Regions from separate parts of the Homo sapiens genome. Here region 1 is linked to region 2. The links come from fine-mapping of genetic effects on gene expression. A gene starts in region 2. The other region holds a variant in brackets. All regions are shown on one strand. Distances are from middle to middle. Region 1 overlaps AFG2A (AAA ATPase AFG2A). Region 2 holds the start of FGF2 (fibroblast growth factor 2).

Evidence for each region. PIP is the estimated chance that this variant, and not a neighbour inherited with it, causes the effect. A credible set is the group of variants that fine-mapping cannot tell apart.
Region 1: its variant is the best candidate, but not a certain one, in a credible set for the expression of FGF2 in subcutaneous fat (FUSION, PIP 0.53).

Annotation. Positions count from the first base shown.
Region 1 is chr4:123,138,676-123,148,608 of GRCh38, forward strand. All of the region lies in intron 14 of AFG2A (AAA ATPase AFG2A), which reads left to right. Among named protein-coding and RNA genes, the nearest start is that of AFG2A, 220 kb to the left of the region's middle. The variant G/A (reference allele first, on the strand shown) is at 5,721.
Region 2 is chr4:122,822,058-122,831,990 of GRCh38, forward strand. FGF2 (fibroblast growth factor 2) reads left to right here and starts at 4,774. Exons shown (of 3, transcript NM_001361665.2): 1 at 4,774-5,295. The coding sequence starts at 5,118. RefSeq lists promoters at 3,633-4,815, 3,984-4,951, cis regulatory regions at 4,008-4,078, 4,079-4,117, silencers at 4,617-5,096, 5,437-5,731 and enhancers at 5,317-5,396, 5,679-6,204, 6,077-6,216, 6,205-6,730, 6,257-6,306.

The DNA.
Region 1 (9,933 bases), 320 kb after region 2:
TACACTTAACATTTGGAAAAAAAATAAATATATTCAAAATATACTTTTTCATTTTTTTAAGGTAATATTTGGTATTTATAGGTCTTCAAGCCCAGGAGCCTACAACCGACAGACTGGGAACCATACTTTATACTATTAGTGAATAATAATAACAAAAATAAGATTTACATTTTTTCTTAGGATACCAGAGTTGAATAAATTCAAATTTAGAAACACATATACATGTATATGTATAAAATATATGTATATCAAAGAACTAGAATTTTTAATCAGACTCAAACCTTACCAGTGAAATGGGAATACTCTTTACATTATCCACCTAAAATGTTCCTATTAACCATGTGGTTTTAAGAGGTATTTAAATTTTGGAATTTTTAATAGCTATCTGTTTCTTCTGTAACTTTGATTATATTATAGCTTTTCTTGAATGAGGAGATAAAACAGATGTAAATATTAAGACAAAAGCTTGATGCCTATGAAACAAATTATTTCCAAGTACATAGAGTGAAAATACTTTAAAAGCCTTTGAATTTGGCAACTTTCTCTTTGCATTCCCTTTCCTGATTCTGTAGCAATCACTGTCTTGTTCTTAATGAACTGGTACTCAAAGGTCATTCAGAAACATTCATTAAAACCAGTAGGGAAATAATTCTACAGACTTCCTTTAACCAACCTGTAGTTTTGTTTTCTTTCTTAATAGCCTCAGGTCTCAGACACAACCATCTTTTATTTATTTTTTCTTTCTTTCTGGAATCAAATAACTTTTAAAGATTTGAGAAAATCAGCACCAATATTTGAAGATTAAAACTTGATCCATCTGTCAGTTAGAATTTTGATTTGGAAAAGCCACAGGTAACAGTGTAAATTCTAGTTTTACAAATGTAGTAATAAAGAATATACTTCAGTGGCAATTTAAACTTCATATTAGTGAATTAAGATACTCAGTAAGTTTCAGGGTATTAGATTGATAAAGCAATACCTGGATTAATGACTAGTCATTATGAGGTGTACTTTTATCTTTCATTTAAGTCAAAACTTATGTTGCATTACATGCTTTACAAAAATTGCCACATTATTACATTATGGTTTGGCCATAAATAGGAGCAATTTTGGGAACCATTTATTTTGTGAATGGTTACTGATTTTCTGAATCATTCAAGTTCTACATTCTATTAAATTTTATAAGCCTATTATTTAATATGAGCTTTTTCTGTTTTCAGACTGATACCCATTATTTTTCAGTCATAGCAGAGAAATAGGTTTCCAGGATAAAACAAATTGTTCAGGTATTCAAGCAGCCCTCAGGAGTAGGCAAATATCAACAGATAGGTCACTGAGAGATCAAGGGATTTACTCTTTTCTTTGGTATACCATAGTTCTTGAAGGCTAAAATTTTGGTAACTGTTTCAGGAAAATAAATACTGTACTATATTTCGTTTCTTTCCTTCAATCCTGATATGTAAAGTAAACAAACCTGTTTTCAGAATATCTAACCTTTAGTTGAGTAAATGACAGGTAGGAAATAAAGCTGTTGATACGGGAGAATGAGTAAGTGAAAAAATCCATCCTTTGTCAACCACTCTTATTTTTTAAATTGAATCTGCTTTCAGTTTCAGTAGTTGGGAGTGCTAGATGTACATAGCTTAATGGATTTGGTGCTTAAAATTCTGGTTTTCTTCTTTTACTTACATTCCAACATCACAATAGAAAATAATGCAAATAGCCTTCTAAATGATTGATATATGATGATATGTTAGGCTTATTTATTGAGTCAATGCTTCACACCTGTTCTGTGTCACAACACCTCCCTTAGAGGATAAGGTTTTTTTTTTTTTAAAAAAGCGATTCTTTCTTGTAATGCCACAGGCATTATAAATCTCTCAATTGAAAAATACTGAATTAAATTTGCTTCTTATTTAAAACTACTTAAGGGTAACCCTTTGTATACTTGTTTTTTAAAGTTGATTGCTTATTATCACATTGCTCTATGTGTATTCCCATTTTTTAAACTTTGACAAGATACTAATTTTTATATTCATGGTAATAATAATCTTAACATTATATAACATTTTCACAATATGGAGTTTACTGAAAACAAATCTAAAATTTTACATTTAAGTTCACTAAAGTAACACTTGTAGGATGAGAAAGATTTTACTTGTTTGGTGGTACATGGAAATTTGACCCCACATGGAACAAAAGTTAACATTGTCATGAAACTACTAAAAAAAATGCTCGTGTCATTTTAGCCTACATTAATTATAGCATCTAGATTGCATAACTAATAACTTCATAGTATTCTGTCCTGGTGAGATGACATCTAGAATATAACACACAATTTTGAGATTTCATGATTTGCAACTAATTTTGGACATAACAGGCAAGGTCCACAGCATATTTTTACCATGGATAATAGAATGTAAAATAGTTACTGTTTTCATGTGTTTAAAAGTCTGTTCTCTAGAAAAGACATGATTTTAAAAGAAAGTTTCTAGCAAAACAAAAAGAATAACTTTGTGGTGAATTGGAATTTTTCACTAGGGGACTTGCTTGTTCTGGTAGGCATTGATCTCCCAGTTGTTCTGGGTGCTTTTAAAAATTATATTACATTTCTGCTGCATTGACTAGGAAGTTAAAATTAGCCAGGCATGGTGGCGTGGGCCTGTAGTCCCAGCTACTCAGGAGACTGAGGCAGAAGAATCGCTTGAACCCAGAGGCGGAGGTTGCAGTGAGCCAAAATTGCCCCACTGCACTCTCCAGTCTGGGTGACAGAGCGAGACTCGGTCTCAAAAACAAAACAAAACAAACAAACAAAAAAACAGTGTTACTCTATAGTGTACTGTGTTGCCAGATTTGTTTTGCCCACCTGTAGGCTAATGTAAGTATTCTGAGCATGTTTAAGTTAGGCTGGGCTAAGCTATGATGTTCAGTAGGGTAGGTATGTTAAATATTTTTTTGATTTAATATTTTGAGCTTGATGGGTTTATCAGAATGGAACTCCGTTGTAAGTAGAGGCTCGATCTGCATCTTTGGAGAAACGTCTATGCAAGTTTTTTGCCCACTTTTGAGCTGGGTTGTTTGTTTTTTGTTTGTTGTTGTTGGGTTTTAGGTATTCCCTATATATTCTGGATATTAATCCCTTATCAGATAGATGATTTGCAAACATTTTCTTTCATTCTGTGGGTTGCCTTTTTACTCACTTGCCACTTTTTTGTAGCAAACGTGACCCCTCCTAAAAGGGGGGATATATGTATTTTAAGACCATTCCTTGGCAGTATTGTCCTTAGAGCTTTAGGTTGACTATTTGAATTCGTATGGTCTTTGACTCATCTCATCATCTAAAACTCCTTGATGTTTTCCTCCTTTCTTTAATGTTATATAGACACAACTGGGACAGCTGACAGTGAATATAGGTTATATTTTTGCGAAGAATTTAGCAAGAGAGGTTGGCTGTTTGGCATTAAATATCTGTATCACTGTGAAGTTTTTAATTGTTTTTGGATACTAATTATCACTGAACATGACCTAGAACAATACCTTATTACATAGAGTTACTCATTTGTCAAATGTAGGAATGAATGTATGTATGCATGCATGTAAGTACACATGCATATAGCCTTGGTAGTTACTACAGTGCTATCATAGATGTAAAGTCTTTCACAGGCCTGGGTAGACAGCAGTCATGTTTTATTCATGGCCTAGTCTAGCATGGTTCCTGGTACTCTTAAGTTTTGGTGAATGTTCGTCATATAAATAAATATATTTAATTTAGAAAGCATCAGAAAAACTAACATTTGGATAAAGCAGATATAATTTTGTATTATATATGTGAGTAATTTTCTTTCATCTTTAAATTGTCATATTTCCAAGGAATCTATTCATTGTTGATTTCATGTCCCTCTTAAACAACTTGAGATACGTTAACTTTGGTAATCTGTCATAGACTTCACTTCATTCTGTGGCCTTTAATTTAAGAGAATGGTAGTTCTTTAGATGCTCTCTCAGGGTTAATCTCCCAACAGCTGGAAAACCAAGAATGGCTGTGAAAAGTACTTCTTTACCTAATACAGGATTGCATAACTACTTGCTTTTCCCTTAAAAATAATCTGCAGTATACATGGATCTTAAAATAGGAATGATAACTCTTTTGTAGAAATATTAGGGGATCAGAAGAGATAATTTATACGAATCATTTGGCTTACAATTTGTTGTAAAGTGAGGCCTTGAGACGCAATAGCTATTACAGGGTGAGCATTCTAAGTTGGAAAATTCAAGACCTGAAATGCTCCAAAATTTGAAACTTTTGAGTTCTAACATAATGCTTGAAGGAAATGCTCATTGGAGCATTTAGGATTTTGGATTTTAAGGTTTGGGATGCTCAACCCTAAACCAGTAAGTATGTATAATGCAAATATTACAAAATCCAAAAAAAATCTGAAATCTGAAACACTCTGGTCCCAAGCAATTCAGATAAGGGGTATTCACCCTGTATTATTAGTTTTTCCAGAAAAAAAAAAGAAAGATTATCAAAGATACACACCCGACTTTAGCACTAAAATTTTTAAGTTGTTGTACCTTCAATTGCTTTATTTTTCCCTTTCAATTCTAATGTTAAAAAATGTAATCCTGTTTTACAAAATATTTCAGCAAGTTTTCAGCAGTCGTCGCTATTACATTAACTATAAATAATCTTTTGGGAGACCTATCAACATCTACTTTCTCTTTCACAATTTGATAATTAACGTATATCACATCTGTGCCTTTCTTTCTAGGGATTTCCAAGATCTGATGGAATTTGCAATGGTTGATGTATATATGGCTCTTATCCATTGTCAGTAACCCACCTTCTTATGAGCTTTTCCAATTTTCGGGCAAATAACTAAGTACAGTATTTGTGCTGATATAGGTACAAGAGTTTAAAGAAGGCATGACTTAAGTGTTACTAAGAGGAAATAAGGAGAAATTATGTTAATAAATTGGCATTATATACTAATAAAGTTAGTCTCCAATCTGTGGAAACATGAAGAATAGAATGTAATGCTTTGCATTTCTCGGTGGATGAATGATTTTAAAATTTCATACATGGGGGAGAAAATAAAAATACTCCTGAACCCAAAGCTTGACTTCATTCAGGGATATGCATAAACTTCTCTCTCTTTTTTTTTTTTTTTTCCTTTAACCTGAAAGGACATTTAGAAAGCTAAATCTATTTTTCCTTCTTTTCAGTCAGAAAGTCAGGCCTCACCAGCAACAGACTACTGGTGTTTTGTAAGGGCTATATAATGTTTTCATCGTAATGCTATATAATGTTTTCATCTTTGTATTCGTTAGCCCAGACTTTTTGTTTAGTACTAGGAAGTATTTCCACAGATGTTGAGTGAGTGGATAAATGAATTAACTTGTGTGGTATACCTGGGGAAAAGGCAGTAAATGGGTAGAAAAACTCAAGAATAATCTACACCTATGGGGTTGACAACTTTTCCAGTTGCTCTAGGAATTACTGTAATCATTTTCTTTCTGTTATACTGCCTTATAGATCTGATGGAAATTTTGAAAAGAGCGTGTTCTCATTGTTTAGCTCTATATATCTGTTGGCTTCATTTGCTTTTAATATTTTTTTCTAATAGATACCTTTCTGGCTTGCACAGCAAAGTTCAATTAATGTAAGGATAAAATGTAAATTATCTAATTCAGCTTATTTACATGCTGTAAGTAATATA[G/A]TAATGCTAACTGGGCTTTCCTTGGCTTTTGTTTCATTGTGATCTGAGCTCAGATTATAGTTTGATCTGCTATGCACTGACCTGGGTGCCAGATGCAAGGGAAGCCAGTAAATAATACTATAAAGAGAGATGCTAGCTTTAGTTTTGAAAGGACGATGACTTGTAAGTGAGACTGTTGTAAACCACACAGTAATTAAAAAGCTCCATAATTAAAAGGGATATTTCCTTTCTTTAACCTGTCTTAAATGTTAGATATGATTAAAAGCAAAAGCATTTCTCTCAATAAAGTTGGGGGAAAAGTACTTGTTTTTATAGTCAGTTTTTGAAACATAGGAAAAGTGACCTCAAAGAACCTGTGTTGTAAAATTTTCAGAGTCATAGGAACTTGAACTTTGTTTCTTGATTACTTGATGAAATTGGTCATACTAGTTTATGAATAGTTCTGAATGGCCTTGTAGTCTTCTGTTGGTTTTGGTTTCATCTTTCAGTAGATGGACCTGTGGAAAAGTGGAACTGGCTTTGAAAATGTACTGGAAGCAATTATTTTCCTAAGACAATAATTTTTTTTCTCTTTTCCATTTTCTTTAGAACATACAGGCTAGAAGATCCACTCAGCATTTAATGCATATGACTTTACATTGCTGTTTATCTTTTTGTTTATCCCGAAATTGGAAGCTTCTAAAAGGCAGAGATTCACTCTCTTCCTGTGGTGGTTCTAGAGGCTGTGCCTTGCATAGAGTTAATTTTTAAAAAATAATTAATAATTATTTTTCTTACCATTTCTATTACTCATTTTTCAATTTGGAGAATAATTTTACCTGGCCACACTGATGGAACTTGCATACATGGGCCAGCTCTTTTACTCAGTTGCCCAATTTTTGAATGAAACTGAAAACTGTGGACAGATACATCAGGGAAGAGGAACATACAGAGTAAAAGACATAAAAGCCTTAAAGTTGGCTTCAGTTTCTTCATTTCATCTTGTAAATTACACAGGAGTCCTTCAGATAAAACTCACTGGTTATATGACAAATTAAGCAATTAGATTACTGCACACCTAATAATAGTAGCAAATAATGCACTTTCAATCTGCTAATATGTTAAGCACTTTTCATTATCTCTTCCTTTTACATGAGGGGAATCTGAAGTTTAGGGAATTTAAAACTTCCACAAAGTTAGTAGTCAGTAGTTTATATACTAGTATTAAATCTGTTTAAATCCAAAGCCGGTGACATTAACAGTTTCCAAACGATAATAACAAAAGTGAAAAATGTTAGTATCATTCCTTGAGAATTCACTACATAAAATTCTCTTCCAAATATTTACTCATTTTATAGATTAGGAAACTGATCCCCAATGAGGTATATCCTTTTGGTATATTGGTTAAAGAATAATATGTCTACTTGAGAGTGGCATCCTAATTACTGAAAACTGGACTACGAACTTTTAAAGTTTAATTAACAGTAATTTAATGTATTTTTATGTTATTTCTTAATCTTTGGATTATTTTTTCTTTTTGGAGGTTGTGTATACTCTGAATACTTATAGCAGTACTTCAGAACAATTTAGAACATATTTGTACTTCTAATGCAAATTTAATGTCTAGAATCCTGTTAACACATGTGATAAATGCCAACAGAAAGAGATTGATTTGCTGTCATGAATTAGACTGACAGATTTCTCAACAACACTAGATGCAAGAGGCCACTAAATAGGAAACTAACTTTGAACCTAAGATTTTATCCAACTAACTTATTTAAATATGAGGGAGAAGTAAGGATATTTGCTCATATACAAGATCTCAGAAAACTTACTGTACCAACACTATTTCTGAAAAGCACCAGGCAAGAAAAGTATGTCCAGAAGGAACTAGTGAGATATAGTTAGTAAAAGGAAATAAAGAACCCAAGAAAGGGTATAGTTTTATAGCCACACAATGGGGAGAAAAACGGAAAAGAAGGGGAAGAAAAGAAATAAGAGCCAAGTAATTTGTTGGCTTAGAATTAAAACTCCAGGTAATATTAGTCTTTCAGCAGTTATGGGGACAAGATGGGTAAGGAAGTCAGTTAGAGATCAGAGTAGGTGAAAATTTTGAGGTTCTTGTATTCATCAGGGAAAGTATTTATGAACTTTAGACACTAACAGTGAAAAATATGCATAGTTATGAAACTCAAAATTAAGCTCTCTGTTTAATAATAGACATCAGAGATAACATGAACAGATACTGATAAATTGAGAAAAGAGCTTCAGTACCAAACGAAACAAAGAACACAGATTTCCAGGTGCTTTTTTATCTGAACATGTTGCAGCACCATTGGAACCATTGTGTCACTTTAACCAAGCCTCCAATATTTTTATTCTTTCAGATCACAAGGGGTGGATGCCAAACCTCTCATTTTTTTCCCTCATGATTACACTACAAGGCAAAGCGCACAGGGTTTGAGTTCGTTGCAGTTGCTAGGGACATACACCTAGGGACTGACTACTAGGGCAACCTATGCTGTCATGTCACATTGTTCATAAGTCTTCCGTGAGCAAAGATCTGTCCCAACAAATGCCCCATACTCCTTTCACTTCCAAGTTATTTTCTATCCTAAACAATTTTTCCTTCCTTTATACTGGAAACTCCAAGATCTATAACATTTTATGATAAACTTGATCTTATTTTATATTATATATTTGTGTTCCCATTTCACTCTTCTGTTATCTTACTCTAACACTTAAATGCTGTATGATCAAAGTTAACTAATTTCTTAAATTTAATGAATCTCTTTAAACCAGGAGATGTCATGTCTTGGTTGTGCATGGTATACATAGGAATGATAGTTTAAGGAAACCCATTTCTAGATCTTTAGTGCCTAAAACTGATCTGCTTGAGAATTCACTTGTGATGGGGGTGGAAGTTTCTCTTCTCCAAACTCCTCTTTACCTCTGAAGCATCAAACAAGTGGGCAGTGGGAAATACAGGTATTACGTTTGAGAGAATAGATGGCACTAAAGCCATCTATTATTAAACTGGTACTCAGTACCAGTTTACTGAGTGTGGTCTGAAGATCATAATAATTACCATTTGCCTTTTTCATTCTTATTTTCTCAGTAGTTACAATTAAAAAAGATTTTCAGTTGTTATCTGTCATCATTCCTGATATATAATATAGACAGATTTCAAATACTTGAGGAATATGATTAGAACAGAATTACTTCTCGCTTATTTGTATGAACAAGGTTTCTCTGTACTTTATTCCACAAATTTTTTTTAGAAATTGAAATAGAATCTAAAAAATTGAATTGTAGCAATAAGTAATAGTTTACAATGTCTATAAAAATTCACTGGGGAGGGAGACTAATAAGAGGATTCCAGCTGTCTCATTAAGAAACGAACTTTCTATAACCTTAATGTTTAATTATATTTTCCAAAAATCATTAATACATTTATGTAATTGTACATGAATCATTGTAATGCTCATTCAATCCAGAAGAAACGTAATACTTAGAACCTTATGTTCATATGAGTGAACACTTTTTAAAATTTCAAAATATGTGCATATTTTTCTAAGAATTATTACAAGATGATCAGAGAAAGAAGGAAATTCTATTGGGATAGTAGAGTAGAAGTACAAATTCAAGGAGAAAAAAAGAGCAGTGTAAAATTTCTCAAAGATATCTTTTAAATAGATGGTAGTGTTAAATCACTGTATATTTAAATCTGTTGAATATGTTGAAAGAGTTGATGTAAAGGTCTTATTTTAAAATCTCAATATTTACAAAACTCTGGAAATTACATCCTTTACCACTATTTAAACATGGGTACATGTGAGAAGGCAAAAATCTCAATTTTCTTTTTTAAGTATACATACAGTTCCTTTTTAGCACTAAGAGCTACGTGTGCATAATGATTGAGACCAGAACTCCACATTTTGTTGAAAAGTGGGGAGTGAGGGGGAGAGAGAGAAATGCTTTTAAAATTAAACAATGAAACTTTTCCGGGGAGTAGTGAAGAGTGGGTGGTTATAAAATGACTTGGAAGCAGATCAGCTGGAAAGGTGAAAGAATCAGAAAGCAAATATAGCAGTGGATAATGGAGTTGATCTGTAGCTAGCCTATAGCAACTGCCTTTACTATATTTTAATATGTGCCATTAAGTGTGTCTCTTGATTGCTTCTGCTTTCTGCCAGTATGGCTTACTGTTGTAACTAGAGTTAGTTAGCTGGCC
Region 2 (9,933 bases):
GAATCTGTCATCTGAGCACAAAAGTTAGACAGTAATCTTTACTACCTCTTGTGAAGATAAAATAGAGTGGTTCACTCTATTATTTCATACCTGATAGTATGATGATGATCTGGAGAACTAATAAGATTATTTTTGATGTACTAGGTTTTAGAAAACAGTAATTTGTGCATTTTTTGTGAGATTTTCATAAGGAAATGGGTTTAATGTGATTTTCATTATGAAATGGTTAAAAGAAAGACTTCCACAGACATTGACTACACTGATACCTGCCCTTCCATAATGTAGATGATGAACTTAGCTTTCAAAAACAGTTTTCGGTGATGAAAATAATGCATTCCTTCATTTGTCAAAAAAGAAACAAACAAGCAAACCAACTTACTGAGGCCCCACTTAGTGCCATTAGGTCCTTGGGATACAGCAATGTACAGGTCAGAAAGATCTCTGCTCTAAGTTTTCTTGTATTATATTAGGGGAAGGAAACTGATAATAAATACAAAAACAAACAAGATACAATTTTAGATGATAAGTTTATGTGATAGTGAGTAATTAGTTGTTTGCATAAAAAATTCTACCTTCCAAAATATCACTACAAATACTTTAGTGTTTCTCATTCTATTATGTGTATGAAAGCATATTAAATAAATGAGATACTATTATACAGTTTTGTAACCTACTTCTTTCAATTAACAATATACAATATTGCAAGAATTTTTTTCATGTTATTATATATTCTCCCACAAAACTGTTTATTTGGCTACATGGAACGTACTACTTCGAATGAATATAATGTAATTTATTCACATTAATCACCTAGATTATCCCTTATTTTTCCTCATTATGATCAAGGATATAATGAACATCCAGGTTAATAAATCTTGTGTACATCTATAATCGTTTCTTGAGAATAAATTTCTTACATCAAAACTGTTGCCTCAAATGGTTATTTAAATTTCAAAAATTGGGCCAGTCATGGTGACACATGCCTGTAATCCCAGCACTTTGGCATGCTGAGACTGGCAGATCGCATGACCCCAGGAGTTTGAGACCAACCTGGGCAACATGGTGAAACCTGTCTCTATAAAATATACAAAAGATTAGCCAGGCATGGTGGCATGCGCCTGTAGTCCCAGCAAACCTGGGAGGCTGAGGTAGGAGGACCACCTGAGCCCAGGAGGTCGAGGTTACAGTGACCCACGATTCTGCCAATGCACACCAGCTTGGGTTGACAGAGCGAGACCCTGTCTCAAAAAAGAAAAAAAATCAAAAATTAAAACTGTGATGTACCTTTTAAAATAGTTTTCCCAAAATGCTGTATAATTTAGCCTCCCTCTGACTGTCGATAAGGTCTTTGGTTCACCTCATCCTTAATAGCACTGGATGATATCTTTTTCCTCCCGACTTTATGGGAGAAAAAAACTCATTTTCATTTTGACATCTATTATTTTTCTTTCTCTTTTTTTGAAGATACAATTCATGTATCATGAAATTCACCATTTTAAAGTGTTCAATTCAATGGTTTTCAGTATATTCACAAAGTTGTGTAATAACCATCACCACTATCTAATTCCGGAACTCTTTTATAGGTCCCAAAGGAAATCCCATACTCATTAGCAGTCACTGCCCATTTCCCTCTCCTTCAGCCCTGGCAACCACTAAGCTGCTTTCTGTTTCTATGGATTTGCCTACCCTAGGCATCTCATATAAATGGAATCATATAACACCTGGCCTTTTCTGTCTTTTTCCACTGAGCATAATGTTTCCAAGCTTCATCCATGTTGTAGCACGTATCAGTAATTCATTTCTGTTTATTGCCAAATAACATTTCATTGTATGGATATACCACAATTGATTTATCCATTCATCATTTGATGGACATCTGGCTTGTTTCCACATTTTGGTTATTATGAATAAAGCTGCTATGAACATTTATGTACATGTTTTCATGTGAATATATGTTTCCAATTCTCTTGGCTACATACCTAGGAGTGGAATTGCTGGGTTGTCTGGTGACTCTGTTTAATTTTAGAGTTAACTGTCAGACTGTTTTTATATTGACTACATCATTTTACCTTTCCACCAGCAATGTTTGAGGGTTCCACTTTTACCACATCTTCAACACTTATTATTTTTTGTTGTTGTTATTTCTTAATTATAGCTATCCTAGTGGGTGTAAAGTAGTATCTCATTGTTGTTTTGATTTGTATTTCTCTAATGTCTAATGATGTTGAGCCCCTTGTCATGTGTTTATTGGCTATTTGTATATTTTCTTTGGAGAAGTGTCTGTTCAAATCTTTTCCCATTTGAAAATTAGATTATTTGTTTGAATTGTAGGGAATACAAGTTATTTTACTGCGTGTAGCTGCTCCCCAGGTTTCTGGATGCCATTGTTAAAAAATATCATGACTTAGATTTTATCCCCGTGCTCCTGGAATCCTCAGGTTTCTGTGACACAGAGTTCAAGTGAGAGTTCAATCATTCTAGGGACTACTCAGCACCACAGTAGCACCTACAGAGATCATCTGGAGGGAGTGATTTTGTCTCAACAGACGGATCTTCAATGAAGATGAAACAAATCCATTTTGGAGAGAGATGTTAGAGAACTGATGGCGTTCAGGACATGCTACCCAAAAATAATGGTACCTTGGCACTTAAGAAAAGAGCAGAAGCAAGAGGGTTACTTTCACTTTCCCCAGATCTTCTCTTCTGAGGCAGACCATAAGACCTTCATTCCAGAGGTGCCTTCCCTATACCTGGAGGAAACAGACATCCTTATCTCTGAAGACACACGGACAGGGAAAAGAATCTGAGCAAATAGGCCTTGCTAAGTAAGTCCCCCCAGTTTATTACCATTAGATCACAGATTTGTCCAATCATACTTCTCCATGACTTCCACTTCTTTATCAATCCTAGCCTTAAAAATACACAGGCTTCCCTCTTAACTTTGGGTCTTAATTTCTGAAGTCTCCTGTTTTGTGTAAAACTCACATAAATAAGTTAGTATGTTTTTCTCTTGTTAATGTGTCTTTTGTTACAGGGGCTTCAGCCATAAACCTAGTAATGAATGGGGAAATTTTTTTTTTCCTCCTCTATAGAACATATACCAACTGCAAGAAGAAAGAAGAATATGCCTGGTTTTGGGCCTGGCGCGGTGGCTCACGCCTGTAATCCCAGTACTATGGGAGGCTGAGGCGGGCAGATCACCTGAGGTTGGGAGTTCGAGACCAGCCTGACCAACATGGAGAAACCCCGTCTCTACTAAAAATACAAAAAATTAGCCCTGCGTGGTGGTGGCGCATGCCTGTAATCCCAGCTATTCGGTAGGCTGAAGTAGGAGAATCGCTTGAACCCAGGAGGTGGAGGTTGCGGTGAGCCGAGATCGTGCCATTGATCTCCAGCCTGGGCAACAAGAGCAAAACTCTGTCTAAAAAAAATAAATAAATAATAAAAATAAAAACAGTATGCCTGGTTTTAAAGCTTCAAAGAATTTACTCATTCTCCTGTATGTAACATTCTAGAAATGCATCTGGAGTTAAAGCCTTCTTGGAGACTTAAGAACAAATGCACTTATGCATGGCCTTTTGAAACCTAATGTTTCTACAAGGAGGCACGTCCATACTTGCAACTCCTTCTAGAAGCTTCCCCAAATCTCCTGCCTCCCCACGCTGAGTTATCCGATGTCTGAAATGTCACAGCACTTAGTCTTACTCTTCTATGGCCTACTTTCTACTGCTATTTGTGTTACTCATGCTACCCATCTTATCTCCCTCAGTGTGTGAGACGCTGGCATCAGATTTGGCATCTCCCACACACTCAACATTATGTGTTGCACACAGTAGGTACTCAATACATGCAAGTTTTCTGAATAGATATTTTCCTAGTCATCTGTGGCACCTGCTATATCCTACTGAAAATTACCAAAATGCAATTAACTTCAATTTTACATTTGGGATTTACAGAAAATAACTCTCTCTCCAAGAAATGCATAACAATTTAGCTAGGGCAAATGCCAGGTCCGAGTTAAGACATTAATGCGCTTCGATCGCGATAAGGATTTATCCTTATCCCCATCCTCATCTTTCTGCGTCGTCTAATTCAAGATAGGTCAGTAAAGGAAACCTTTTCGTTTTAGCAACCCAATCTGCTCCCCTTCTCTGGCCTCTTTCTCTCCTTTTGTTGGTAGACGACTTCAGCCTCTGTCCTTTAATTTTAAAGTTTATGCCCCACTTGTACCCCTCGTCTTTTGGTGATTTAGAGATTTTCAAAGCCTGCTCTGACACAGACTCTTCCTTGGATTGCAACTTCTCTACTTTGGGGTGGAAACGGCTTCTCCGTTTTGAAACGCTAGCGGGGAAAAAATGGGGGAGAAAGTTGAGTTTAAACTTTTAAAAGTTGAGTCACGGCTGGTTGCGCAGCAAAAGCCCCGCAGTGTGGAGAAAGCCTAAACGTGGTTTGGGTGGTGCGGGGGTTGGGCGGGGGTGACTTTTGGGGGATAAGGGGCGGTGGAGCCCAGGGAATGCCAAAGCCCTGCCGCGGCCTCCGACGCGCGCCCCCCGCCCCTCGCCTCTCCCCCGCCCCCGACTGAGGCCGGGCTCCCCGCCGGACTGATGTCGCGCGCTTGCGTGTTGTGGCCGAACCGCCGAACTCAGAGGCCGGCCCCAGAAAACCCGAGCGAGTAGGGGGCGGCGCGCAGGAGGGAGGAGAACTGGGGGCGCGGGAGGCTGGTGGGTGTGGGGGGTGGAGATGTAGAAGATGTGACGCCGCGGCCCGGCGGGTGCCAGATTAGCGGACGCGGTGCCCGCGGTTGCAACGGGATCCCGGGCGCTGCAGCTTGGGAGGCGGCTCTCCCCAGGCGGCGTCCGCGGAGACACCCATCCGTGAACCCCAGGTCCCGGGCCGCCGGCTCGCCGCGCACCAGGGGCCGGCGGACAGAAGAGCGGCCGAGCGGCTCGAGGCTGGGGGACCGCGGGCGCGGCCGCGCGCTGCCGGGCGGGAGGCTGGGGGGCCGGGGCCGGGGCCGTGCCCCGGAGCGGGTCGGAGGCCGGGGCCGGGGCCGGGGGACGGCGGCTCCCCGCGCGGCTCCAGCGGCTCGGGGATCCCGGCCGGGCCCCGCAGGGACCATGGCAGCCGGGAGCATCACCACGCTGCCCGCCTTGCCCGAGGATGGCGGCAGCGGCGCCTTCCCGCCCGGCCACTTCAAGGACCCCAAGCGGCTGTACTGCAAAAACGGGGGCTTCTTCCTGCGCATCCACCCCGACGGCCGAGTTGACGGGGTCCGGGAGAAGAGCGACCCTCACAGTGAGTGCCGACCCGCTCTCTCCGCCTCATTTCCATTTCGTGGGTTCTCGCCCGCTCTCTCCCCTCCAGCCTGCACCCTCCTCCCGGATCTTCACTGCGACCCTAGCGCTCCGTGTGGTTTCTGGCCGCGCGGCCCTCGGCGGTTTCGGGTTCACCACTCACCCCCTCCTTTCCGGGCTGCGGCGTAGGCCCGGGTGTCCCCTGGGCTTTGGGGTGTGCCAATTTGCCCTGTAAACCAGTACCCCCGGCCCGGAGCCGCGGCGCGCCGGGGCCTCGCGGACTGGCTGTCTTCCCGCGGACAACCTGTCGCGTCGGGGATGCCCGCGGCCCCGCCATGCAGCTCTGGCCGCTTCTATCTGCTGCGTGCTGTCCCGGGGACAAAGACAGGAAGGACCGCAGCAGAACGAAACGGTCTTTACTGGAAAAACACCTTTCTAGAGTCCTGCCCTTAAATTCCGACTCGGGACGACCCGAGGCATATGGCACACTACTCTCACCCACTCTGTTTTATATTTTTCCGAATTGACGAAAGCTGAAAGAGCAAAAACAAAAACCAACCAGCCAACCAGCAAAAAATCCAGATGTTGTTAATAAAGTGCCATAGCTTTGTTTCAGTAGTGAAAAGAAGTGCAAACACTTTAATCTTCCACCTGCAGTGACTAGCTTTGAGACCTTGAGCCGACGCTTAACCCCAGAGCCGGTTTCCTCATCGCTCACGTGGGGCTAATATATTACTACCTTGCAGCAGGCTTGAGGATGAAATGAGAATTGCAGTTTTGCTTTCTGTAAGAAACAATGTTTGTGGTTCTAGAAAGAACACTGGCCTAAATAAGGAGTGCTTGGACTTTAGGGGATTCCCTAAGTCTGGAGTGGGGGCTGAAGATTTGCATTTCTAACATGTTCCCCGGGGATGCTGATCACATCACACTTTGAGAGCCACTGGTCTAGAGGAAAGAGAAAGAAAGGGGCATAAGATGAGCCGATTTACAACACTGATGGAATTTGAAGTGAGAGAAAGAGGACTAGAATATATTGTAACCTGTCCTCCTGTAAGTGTATGTAAACATGTGTTTTAAAAGCTGTGTGTTATGGCGTTCCTTCCTTTATGGGTTCCAGGTGGAGAATCTGATTCTCTCATTGCCTGAGAAAAGACCCACAGGGGTCCCAGCGCCACTCCCCTGTAGTTCTGCCTTTGTCTTGGGATGCTAATGGGATGTCATGAGGGGAGGTGGAGGGGGGCTGGAAGAGAAGAAAATTCTACAACCAAACGTGAATTGGCAGAAGAATGGGCAATACACTTTCATATGAGCTGAGTCTTTATTGCTTCCAAAATAGCAACCTGCAAGAGAGGCAAGTATTTAATTTTTTTCAGGCTTGCCATAATTTAAAAATTTTATCAATCACTTAATCCCGTAAAACTGAAAAGATGCTTGTAACCTATTAGATGGGTTAGTGCTAGTTCTCTATTCTGGTAACTTGAACTCATCTATTTCAAAAAATTATCTTTGTGATTGAAGTTTGTTCTGCAGTTGTCTGCTACGCCATCTCAGCTGACAAGGGCAAGGTGCTGTGTGTCCCAATTGGTTTTGTTCTTTCTAGTATCACAAATTATTTATTAAAAAGCATGTATTATGACCAGAAGACAGAAGAATTTCCCTTTAAATTAAATTAATATTTGGGGCTTCCCCTAATACTCTTTTTTTTTCAGACTCTATTAGTTGCTGAATCATTTTTTCTTTGAAGATTTTGATACCCGATTCGCCTTAGAATAAAACTATGTAGAGGTTAGCCAGTGGACATAATTTTGAATTGCATACCACATTACCACCGTTGTAAAAACAACCGTTAACTTTTTCTTCCTAACTGTGAGTTGGGTTTTCATTTTTGTAATCTTACTTTAACTCTGTGGTTCTCAAATGGGGACGATTTTGCCTCCCAGGGGACATTTGACAATGCCTGGAGACATTTTTGGTTGCTGTAACCTGGAAGGGTGCTACTGGCATCTGGCAGGTAGAGGCCGGGGATGCTGCTGAACATCCTACAATACACATTATAATACCCTCAACAAAAACATTTTTGACCCCAAATGTCACTAGTACTCAGGTTGAGAACTCTGCTAACTTTATAACTAGCTAAGGACAAGACATTAAAAGGGAAATGTAGAATAACTCATCCAGACTTGTGGAGACTACCAATTTTTTTAAAATTTTTTATTTCTATAGGGTTTTAGGGACCAGGTGGTAGTTGGTTACATGAGTAAGTTCTTTAGTGGTGATTTGTGAAATTTTGTTGCACCCATCACCCAAGCAGTATACACTGAATCCAGTTTGTAGTCCTGTCCCTCCCCAACTTCCCACCCTTTCTTCCCAAGTCCCCAAAGAGACTACTCTTTTTTTAAAGGATACCTGTACCAGGCAATAGACTGACAAGAATACAAATCTAAAAATGACAAATTTCATCTATTTCTATGTAGCCCAACCTGGACATAAATTTAAGTACAGTATATTATTTTCTCACATATTGGATGTTTACTGATAGTTGACCAAACCATGAGGAGACCCCCCAAAACAAATAAAACTGACCAGAAAACATGGAGAAGAGTTAATAGTAGCCACAGTTTCCTACTACATTATGGCTCAGATTTCTAGACCTGTTTGAAAAGTTGAAAAATCTATGGTCTCATTCCTCAGACTGTTTTGTCCAACTGACCTGAACATCTGTCACTGGAATTTTTTTTCCTTTGGCATGACACTTTGTGCCTACATGTTTTCTAAACTGCAGGTAACTTTTGAAAGGCCAAGTTCAACCATTATCAGATTTTAACATTTAGTATGGATTAAATTGTGAGTGCAATTTCTTCCCCAAAAGCTGGCCAGAAGGACTGGAGTTTGGGGAGGGATGCTTTGAAGACTGTGATATAAATGATGGGGTCCTGGAGAGGTGCAGGGGAAGAGGAGGCAGAGTGGGAAGCTGTGAGGTAGGAAAGAGAGGAAAATTTTCTAAAAGAAGAGGTAGGAGAAGATGACACAACACAAATGTTTCCAATTTTTCAGTGTTGCTGAAGGTCAACTGTGCTTCACACCTGGGCATTCTCCTGAATTTGCACTCAAAAGGGCCCATTTTCTGGCGTTTTTCTCATAGTCCTGGAATAATCTTCATTTGACATGAGAGTCTTGATAAAAACAAGATGTTAAAAGTGGTTAGAGAGTTTCTCCTTCTCCAGCATGTGCGCTGCACTCCTGCCTTTCTTTTGGCATCCTTAACTTTTGGCAGGCCTCTTTCAATGCGGTGGGAATGGATAATATTAAGTATGTACTCTAAAGTAGCAAGCTGTGTAAAAACATTCAGAAGAGAGAACACTTTATCCCAAGCAGCACGTACAACATGTGGTAGAGTATAGTAAGTGAAATGTATGCTGCTTATGTACACTTAGTATTCAATTTATTCCAGGTGCTCTTATTTACAAAAAAAAAAAAAAAAAAAAAAAATGAGAGTAGTTAGAAGTACTGTATCTACCCTTGGGCTTCTCCCAGGAGGTGACTGCCTGTGTGCCACACTTCTTTGCTTGCAGGCTCCAGAGGACGCTGAGACTTGGAAAGGCAGACCTGCCCACCCCAGTGTGGAGCAGGGGTGGCTTGTAGGTGGGCCTGACCCCTGGGCTCTTTGCTACTGCATGTGTTCCATGCAACCCCAAGCATAAAAACATGGACTTGTGAAATCAAAGGGAGGCTTCAGACCTTCTGGTTTACCCATCTCTTTTTACAGAAGAGGATACTGAAGCTCAGAAAAGTCACCAATTACTCAAGTTCACTTGTGGGTTTCCTCTTTTTTTATCCTGAATGAGCTTCTTACCACCTGGTCCCTTGCCTTCTCTTCCTGCCATCCCTCAGCCTCAGTGCGCTCTTCATTCCACCATAGAGTGTGCCCTGCTGGACCCCACTTTGGTTAGGCTTCCTCCATTTCAGGGTAGTGAGCTGCTAGCCCCTTTGAAGAGTTCTTACTAGTTTACGGGTGCCTCAGGTTGATTTCCTGGGGTTTTGGATAAAGCCACCTTTCCATCTCTTCACTACTGCCTTTGGGGTAAATAGAACCATTGATTTAATAATACACGTACTAGATTCTCTCCCCCCACCTCTCTTTGGTAATATCTGGCAAGTGGATAGCAATAATTTTACTTAATGAACGTGATATTTACTGTAATAAATATTGGGTGCAGTAAACAAATGAAGTCAGAATCTAATAGCTCATTTAATCTTGGAAATCATGTAATCAGTACAGCAATGAAAGGACAATTCATGAGTCATAGATATTACCACACCTTAGGAGCCTTTTAAGATGAGTTTGATGCCAAGTGACTTCAGCCTAGAAAAGGCAATATCCCCTCATGACATGCCCTGAGGGGTTTCATTTGTTTATAAAATGACCGTTATGTAATTAGACTTTGACAATGGTGTAACAATTGGGTTTTAAGTATTCTCATTTTGATTTATGATGCCATTTTATGTGGAAGGACATAATTTTAAAGTTTAATTAGAAAATAAAATGTTACAGATGTAATGAACAAAACAAGAACGGTTCTTTAAATATCATAAGCATAAAATTGACTTTCTTCATCTATACACTGATTCTGAGAACTCA